2 linked regions of the Homo sapiens genome follow. The protein of the gene in region 1 interacts with the protein of each later gene in a biochemical or structural test. Each region holds a gene or a part of one and is shown on either strand. Other genes may lie near its edges.

Region 1 (4,825 bases):
AGTGGACAAGAGCTGATGGGCCTCATCAGGGTGACATTCACCCCAGGGCAGCCTGACCACTCTTGGCCCCTCAGGCATTATCCCATTTGGAATGTGAATGTGGTGGCAAAGTGGGCAGAGGACCCCACCTGGGAACCTTTTTCCCTCAGTTAGTGGGGAGACTAGCACCTAGGTACCCACATGGGTATTTATATCTGAACCAGACAGACGCTTGAATCAGGCACTATGTTAAGAAATATATTTATTTGCTAATATATTTATCCACAAATGTGGTCTGGTCTTGTGGTTTTGTTCTGTCGTGACTGTCACTCAGGGTAACAACGTCATCTCTTTCTACATCAAGAGAAGTAAATTATTTATGTTATCAGAGGCTAGGCTCCGATTCATGAAAGGATAGGGTAGAGTAGAGGGCTTGGCAATAAGAACTGGTTTGTAAGCCCCTAAAAGTGTGGCTTAGTGAGATCAGGGAAGGAGAAAGCATGACTGGATTCTTACTGTGCTTCAGTCATTATTATTATACTGTTCACTTCACACATTATCATACTTCAGTGACTCAGACCTTGGGCAAATACTCTGTGCCTCGCTTTTTCAGTCCATAAAATGGGCCTACTTAATAGTTGTTGCAGGACTTACATGAGATAATAGAGTGTAGAAAATATGTTCCAAAGTGGAAAGTTTTATTCAGTGATAGAAAACATCCAAACCTGTCACAGAGCCCATCTGAACACAGCATGGGACCGCCAACAAGAAGAAAGCCCGCCCGGAAGCAGCTCAATCAGGAGGCTGGGCTGGAATGACAGCGCAGCGGGGCCTGAAACTATTTATATCCCAAAGCTCCTCTCAGATAAACACAAATGACTGCGTTCTGCCTGCACTCGGGCTATTGCGAGGACAGAGAGCTGGTGCTCCATTGGCGTGAAGTCTCCAGGGCCAGAAGGGGCCTTTGTCGCTTCCTCACAAGGCACAAGTTCCCCTTCTGCTTCCCCGAGAAAGGTTTGGTAGGGGTGGTGGTTTAGTGCCTATAGAACAAGGCATTTCGCTTCCTAGACGGTGAAATGAAAGGGAAAAAAAGGACACCTAATCTCCTACAAATGGTCTTTAGTAAAGGAACCGTGTCTAAGCGCTAAGAACTGCGCAAAGTATAAATTATCAGCCGGAACGAGCAAACAGACGGAGTTTTAAAAGATAAATACGCATTTTTTTCCGCCGTAGCTCCCAGGCCAGCATTCCTGTGGGAAGCAAGTGGAAACCCTATAGCGCTCTCGCAGTTAGGAAGGAGGGGTGGGGCTGTCCCTGGATTTCTTCTCGGTCTCTGCAGAGACAATCCAGAGGGAGACAGTGGATTCACTGCCCCCAATGCTTCTAAAACGGGGAGACAAAACAAAAAAAAACAAACTTCGGGTTACCATCGGGGAACAGGACCGACGCCCAGGGCCACCAGCCCAGATCAAACAGCCCGCGTCTCGGCGCTGCGGCTCAGCCCGACACACTCCCGCGCAAGCGCAGCCGCCCCCCCGCCCCGGGGGCCCGCTGACTACCCCACACAGCCTCCGCCGCGCCCTCGGCGGGCTCAGGTGGCTGCGACGCGCTCCGGCCCAGGTGGCGGCCGGCCGCCCAGCCTCCCCGCCTGCTGGCGGGAGAAACCATCTCCTCTGGCGGGGGTAGGGGCGGAGCTGGCGTCCGCCCACACCGGAAGAGGAAGTCTAAGCGCCGGAAGTGGTGGGCATTCTGGGTAACGAGCTATTTACTTCCTGCGGGTGCACAGGCTGTGGTCGTCTATCTCCCTGTTGTTCTTCCCATCGGCGAAGATGGCCCTGGAGACGGTGCCGAAGGACCTGCGGCATCTGCGGGCCTGTTTGCTGTGTTCGCTGGTCAAGGTGTCAGTCGGGGACCTGGTTGTAGGGCCCATGGGGGACCAAGGTCGGGGAAAGAGGGCGGAATGGGGCTGTGGGACAGTAAAGAGAAAAGTTAAGTCTCAGAACTCAGAGGTGGCAGGGGGAGTGAGAAGCCGAAGGAGGCCATCGTTTACCTCGTAGGATCGCGGACAGGTCTTGCAGCTGAGGGCAGGGGCGGTCTTACATGCCTTTGAATCCTCAGCTCTTAGACGTTCGGTGAACTTACGTTGGAGCCGAAAGACACTGGGAGTCAGAGGCGGGTGGGGATCCGCTGCTGAGTGAGTAGTCGGAAAGGATGCCTGACCCTGAGTAGACTAGAGAAAGGAATAGATAAAACGGAATTGGGAACGAGAGAGGAAGGAGTGGGAGGGTGGGACTTAGGAATGAAGCTTTGAGAGTAGTAGGTGGGGAACCTTAGGATACACAGTCAACATAGGGAAACAAGAAATTGAGCAGGTCGAAGTATTGAGAAAGCTACTTTTTCTCTTGGTCTTGTTCATGCTTATCTCTCCTTTTCCTTTATTTTTCTTTCACTCCCAGACTATAGACCAGTTTGAATATGATGGTTGTGACAATTGTGATGCATATCTACAAATGAAGGGTAACCGAGAGATGGTATATGACTGCACTAGCTCTTCCTTTGATGGGTAAGCCGCTTCAGTTTCCATCATTCACTTCTGCATTACCCAACCTGCACCCAGAGAAGTAAATGCAGGGCAAGTGTTAATCCTAGTTGGGCCCAGCCATTCGTTTTTGGGGGTTATTTTGTGTGGGTTTTTTTTTTTTTTTTTTTTTTTGAATCAGGGTTTTGCTCTGTGGCTCAGGCTGGAGTGCAGTGGCATGATCATAGCTCACTGCAGCGTGGAATGATCCTCTGACTTCAACCTCCCAGAGTGCTGGGATTATAGGTGTAAGCCACTGTGTCCAGCCTCAACAGTTATTTTGGGACATACTAGTGCTATGCATCTAATACAGTGACCACTATCCACGTGTAGCTACTGAGCACTTGAAATGTGTCTAGTCCAAATTAAGACATGCTTTTAAGTATAAAATATACCCCAGATTTCAAAGACTTAACATGAGAAGAAAGAATGTAATCTTAATAATGTTTGTTAAATGCATGAAAATTTTTTTTGAAAATGAAGGGAAGGGAGGTGTAGTAATGGTAGATCATTGCCCAAAAGCTGTTGCTTTTTTTTTTTTTTTTTTTTTGGACAGACTTTTCGCCCTTGCCACTCATGCTGGAGTGCAATGGTGCAGTCTCGGCTCACTGCAACCTCTGCCTCCTGGGTTCAAGCAATTCTCCTGCCTCAGCCTCTTGAGTAGCTGGGATTACAGGCACCCACCACCACTCCCAGCTAATTTTTATATCTTTAGTAGAGACGGGGTTTCACCATGTTGGCCAGGCTGGTCTCAAACTCCTGACCTCAGGTGATCTGCCCACCTCGGCCTCTCATAGTGCTGGGATTACAAGTATGAGTCACCATGCCCGGCCCATTTTAGCCATTTTACTTATTTATTTATTTATTTATTTATTTGAGATGGAGTCTCGCTCTGTCGCCCAGGCTGGAGTGCAGTGGCGCAATCTCGGCTCACTGCAACCTCCGCCTCCCAGGTTCAAGCAGTTCTCTGCCTCAGCCTCCTGAGTAGCTGGGATTACAGGCACCTGCCACCATACCCAGCTAATTTTTGTATTTTTAGTAGAGACGGGGTTTCACCATGTTGGTCAGACTGGTCTTGAACTGCTGACCTCGTGATCCACCCGCCTCGGCCTCCCAAAGTGCTGGGATTACAGGAGTGAGCCACAGCGCCCGGCTGCAATGGCACGATCTCAGCTCACTGCAACCTCCGCCTCCTACCTCAGCCTCCTGAGTAGCTGGGATTACAGGCGCCCACCACCACGCCCAGCTAATTTTTGTACTTTTTTTAGTAGAGACAGGGTTTTGCCATGCTGGCCAGGCTGGTCTCGAACTCCTGACCTCAGGTGATCCTCCCGTCTCAGCCTCACAAAGTGCTGGGATTACAGGCATGAGCCACTGTGCCCGGTCGCCATTTCTAAATACACAATTCAGTGGCATTAGTGCATACTCACTGTTGTGCAACCGTCACCACCATCCATCTCCAGAACTTTTTTCATCTGTACCCATTAAACACTAGCTCCTCGTTCTCTCCTCCCTCCTGTCCCTGACAACCACCATGCTTTGTCTCTATGAATTTGGCCACCTTAGGCACCCTTAGGTACCTATGGGCTCATTCAGTAGCATTTTTTAGCTTCTTTCACCAACATAATGTCTTCAAGGTTCATTCATATTGTAGTATGCAACAGAATTTCCCTCCTCTTTTGAGCTGAATAATATTCCCTTGTATGTGTATAGCATGTTCTGCTGCCCATTCATTCATCAATGATATCTTGGGTTGTTTCTCCCTTTTGGCTATTTGTGAATAATACTGCTGTGAACATTGGTATACAAATATGTGTTCAAGTCCCTGCTTTTCATTATTTTCAGTACAGATGCACCTCAACTTCCGAGGAGTTACAACCTAATAAGCCCATCATAAGTTGAAAATATAAGCCAAAAGTGCATTTAACACACCCAACCTACTGAATATAATAAGTTAGCCTACTTCAAATGTGCTCAGAACGCTTATGTTACTGTGGCTGACCAGAAGCTGTGGCTCATGGCTGCTGCGCAGCATCATGACAGAATATTGTACTGAATTGCTAGCCTGGAAAAGAACAAAATTTAAAATTTGAAAACGATTTCTATTGAATGCATGTCACTTTTGCAAAATCATAAATTTGAAAAATCATAAGTTGAACTAAGGTAAGTCAGGGATCATCTGTATATCCACAAGTGAAATTGCTAGATCATATGATAGTTCAGTGTTTAATTTTTTGAGGAACTGTCATACTGTTTAGCAACTGCACC
Region 2 (2,777 bases), on another chromosome or scaffold:
AGAGGGATCGACTGACGTTCATTGCTGTTCCATAACTAGTGTAAAATATGTATATGTTTATCTTTATTTTTATAATATGCAAATACATTTAAATTTATACAGTTTGAAGCTTCTAGCGTTAGTTCACACTGGGTGCAATATTCTGCATGAGAACTGTGCCAAGATGGGGCTGATTTCTTATTTTAGTATAAGACTTTTTTGTTTTTTCTTTATTCTTTAATCCTCTTCACATTAAAAAAAAAATCTCTCTGTTAGCCCATGGATTAAGTGTTGGTTCATAGAGATTGCCAATAATCAGAAAGAACCTTAAATGTGCATTTAAGACAGTGTCCCTTCCCTTCTTTTCAATGAAGGTCCCTGCCTATATAAATCATCTGGCACGCTGGTGGGAAATCCTTTGCTCTTCCAACGTGTTATTAGTGCTGGGCAGAGATGGGGCACACTCAGGGGCCAAAGAGGACAAAAAGTCCATGCAAAACTTGAGTCTTTTAATGGCTTAAGATAATCAGGAGTCAGTTCTGAATCTTACAAAGTGCTCTGCTTAATAAGTACCTTACTTAGCAGAGCACTTTGCAAACATATTACTTATTAGCAGAGCTCTTTGTAGACCTTCCACATCTGGCTGTCAGATCTTAAGGTTGTGAATTTAGGCTCCAGTTACATTCACTGGAGAGCATAATCCCACACGGGTTATTTATAAATACAGAGCCTCTGATTGGACGGTCTCCTGCCAAGAACTAGTAATACCCTTGTTTTAAAATCTTCACAAGGTAAAACTTAAAAAGCCAACCAAACAAATTGCTCTCCATTCTACTTTTAATTGGGCCAAACAGCATATGCTACAGTAGTAACATGTTTTTCGGAGAGTGTAAAAAACTCTGTTTACATTTGCCTCCTCCGTGGGTTGATCGAAAATGTATAAAACTGACTGCTTCTCGCCAGCCTCAGACAAGAAGAGTGAGTTGCTGGTACTCGCTACTCTTTTACTTCTTTTGTAAAGTATTGACTCTTGGAAGGCTACAGTATACAAAGTCTCAACATGTTTTTTAAAAGAAATAAGGAGCAAGCGACTGCCCTGCTAGAAATCACAAACCGATTTTTGTAGAATATTTTGTGCCCCAGGCATTAATTTCACTGACTCCAGAACCTGCAGTTCAGAGAATGATTTCTTATGATGATAAAAATCGAATGGGATCAGACGATGTTTGCATTTTTTTAATACTTGAATAGGACACCTCAAGTTTGAGATTTCATTTTCTTTTAGAACACAGTCACAAGATTAATCTGGTGAATCCTTTTGTCACAGTTCTCGTGTGTGTGTGCGCGTCTCCGTGTGTGTGTGTGTGCATGTGTGTAAAACTGAATGGTCACATTTAATTGCTTTTTGGACCATTGAATAGTTGGGAAGTAAGAATTTTTTAATTGGCATGAGACGGTTCCTCAACTGTTAAATTAACCAACTTTGACCTGTCTTTAGAAAAAGGCTTATTTGTATGATTTTGGGCTAACTCCCCGGGGACCATATTAAATGACAAAAATGCTCCTTTGGGTGACACACCCTACAAAGTATTTGCTGTTACGAACATAAACGCCCACATTCTTAATATCTAATATTTTTGACCAGTGATGTTTTATGCTGTCATCTGAACCCTAGAGAAGCAGTGTCAGAGGAAACCTTGGTGTCACATGTGTCTTAGCAAAAGGGTTACCATGATCGAGGGTCATGTGACCAAAAGATGCTCCAGAGAAGCTTGAGAATTTGTTTCAAGTTGGGAGGAGGGTTGGAGATACAAAAATCACTCTGCTCTACAGGACTCTTCAGCTGTCTATGCAAGAAATTCCGTTTTCTCTTTCAGCACCTGGAAAGACACAGCAGCCCACCGAGGCGATAGGTGATTCACTAAGCACAAGAGGAATGTTTTCTAAGCAAGGCGTCCCTTGCCTCTCAAACAAATGCCCTCCAAGTTTGTTAGGGTTTCTATTCCTGCAACTTGTGGTATCAAAACCACTTCCTGGAATTGTCAAAGCACTGCCAAAATAAATGTTTTTCCCCCTTCTAAGAAAAAAAAAATGACAGTGCTCATATTTGACACTTGTGTATTGGACTCTCTTTTGAATGAATAAAAAGGAAAAGGGGTTTGGTGTAATTCCTGATGGGGTGCGTGTTGTTTTTCATGCCATGGTTTGTGAATTTTAATTGTGGTTTCCCATTTCGTTGTTGTAACTGGGCAGAAATTAAAAAAGAAAAATCAATAAAAATACAAAGAAATGGTTAAACAGTTGTATTCCCAGAACTTAATTATTTCAGATTTTGTTCATTTGTTTTTACTTTTAATTCTATCAGTTAAGGAATGACTTTTATAGTTTTAGTCCTTAGTGGTACTGTTGGAGCTGTGGGAGGTGGGTGGTGGTAGCTCTCATCTGTTTGGTCTCCGAAGAGAAAACTAAAGAATCCCTGTTTTAAAACTGCCTCTGTTTTCAGGCTGAGGATATAACTTGAAGATCAGCTCTCTTAAATCAGAATCTTTTTTTTTTTTTCAATGATCCACTATATTCCTAAGTCACAGCTGTTGAATTTATGGTAGCTTTGGAAGTTCCCCTGATCTTTCTTTCAAAGGCTCTTAGCAGAAGTCCTGCTACATACTGCCTCAGGGTGCCCTATTTGCAAACTGGAAGAGCAGGCCCCTCAGGTACCCATCAGAGGATTTAGTACTCCATATTGTTTAAATAAAGGCAAAGAGAAGATAAGGAAGGACCAAAGCCAGGGTGTTAACGTG

The links.
Region 2: the proteins of SUPT4H1 (region 1) and MFHAS1 form a complex in vitro, tested with the Homo sapiens proteins (one large-scale study listed by BioGRID and IntAct).

What each region holds. Positions count from the first base shown.
Region 1 is NC_000017.11:58,349,119-58,353,943, reverse strand, and holds the start of SUPT4H1 (transcription elongation factor SPT4), read left to right. Parts: upstream 1-1,742; 5' UTR 1,743-1,808; coding exon 1,809-1,877; exon of another isoform or gene 1,878-1,945; intron 1,946-2,029; exon of another isoform or gene 2,030-2,209; intron 2,210-2,435; coding exon 2,436-2,542; intron 2,543-4,825. UniProt on the Homo sapiens protein: Component of the DRB sensitivity-inducing factor complex (DSIF complex), which regulates mRNA processing and transcription elongation by RNA polymerase II.
Region 2 is NC_000008.11:8,782,854-8,785,630, reverse strand, and holds the end of MFHAS1 (malignant fibrous histiocytoma-amplified sequence 1), read left to right. Parts: 3' UTR 1-2,277; downstream 2,278-2,777. UniProt on the Homo sapiens protein: Probable GTP-binding protein. Functions in innate immunity and more specifically the inflammatory response as a regulator of the Toll-like receptor TLR2 and TLR4 signaling pathways.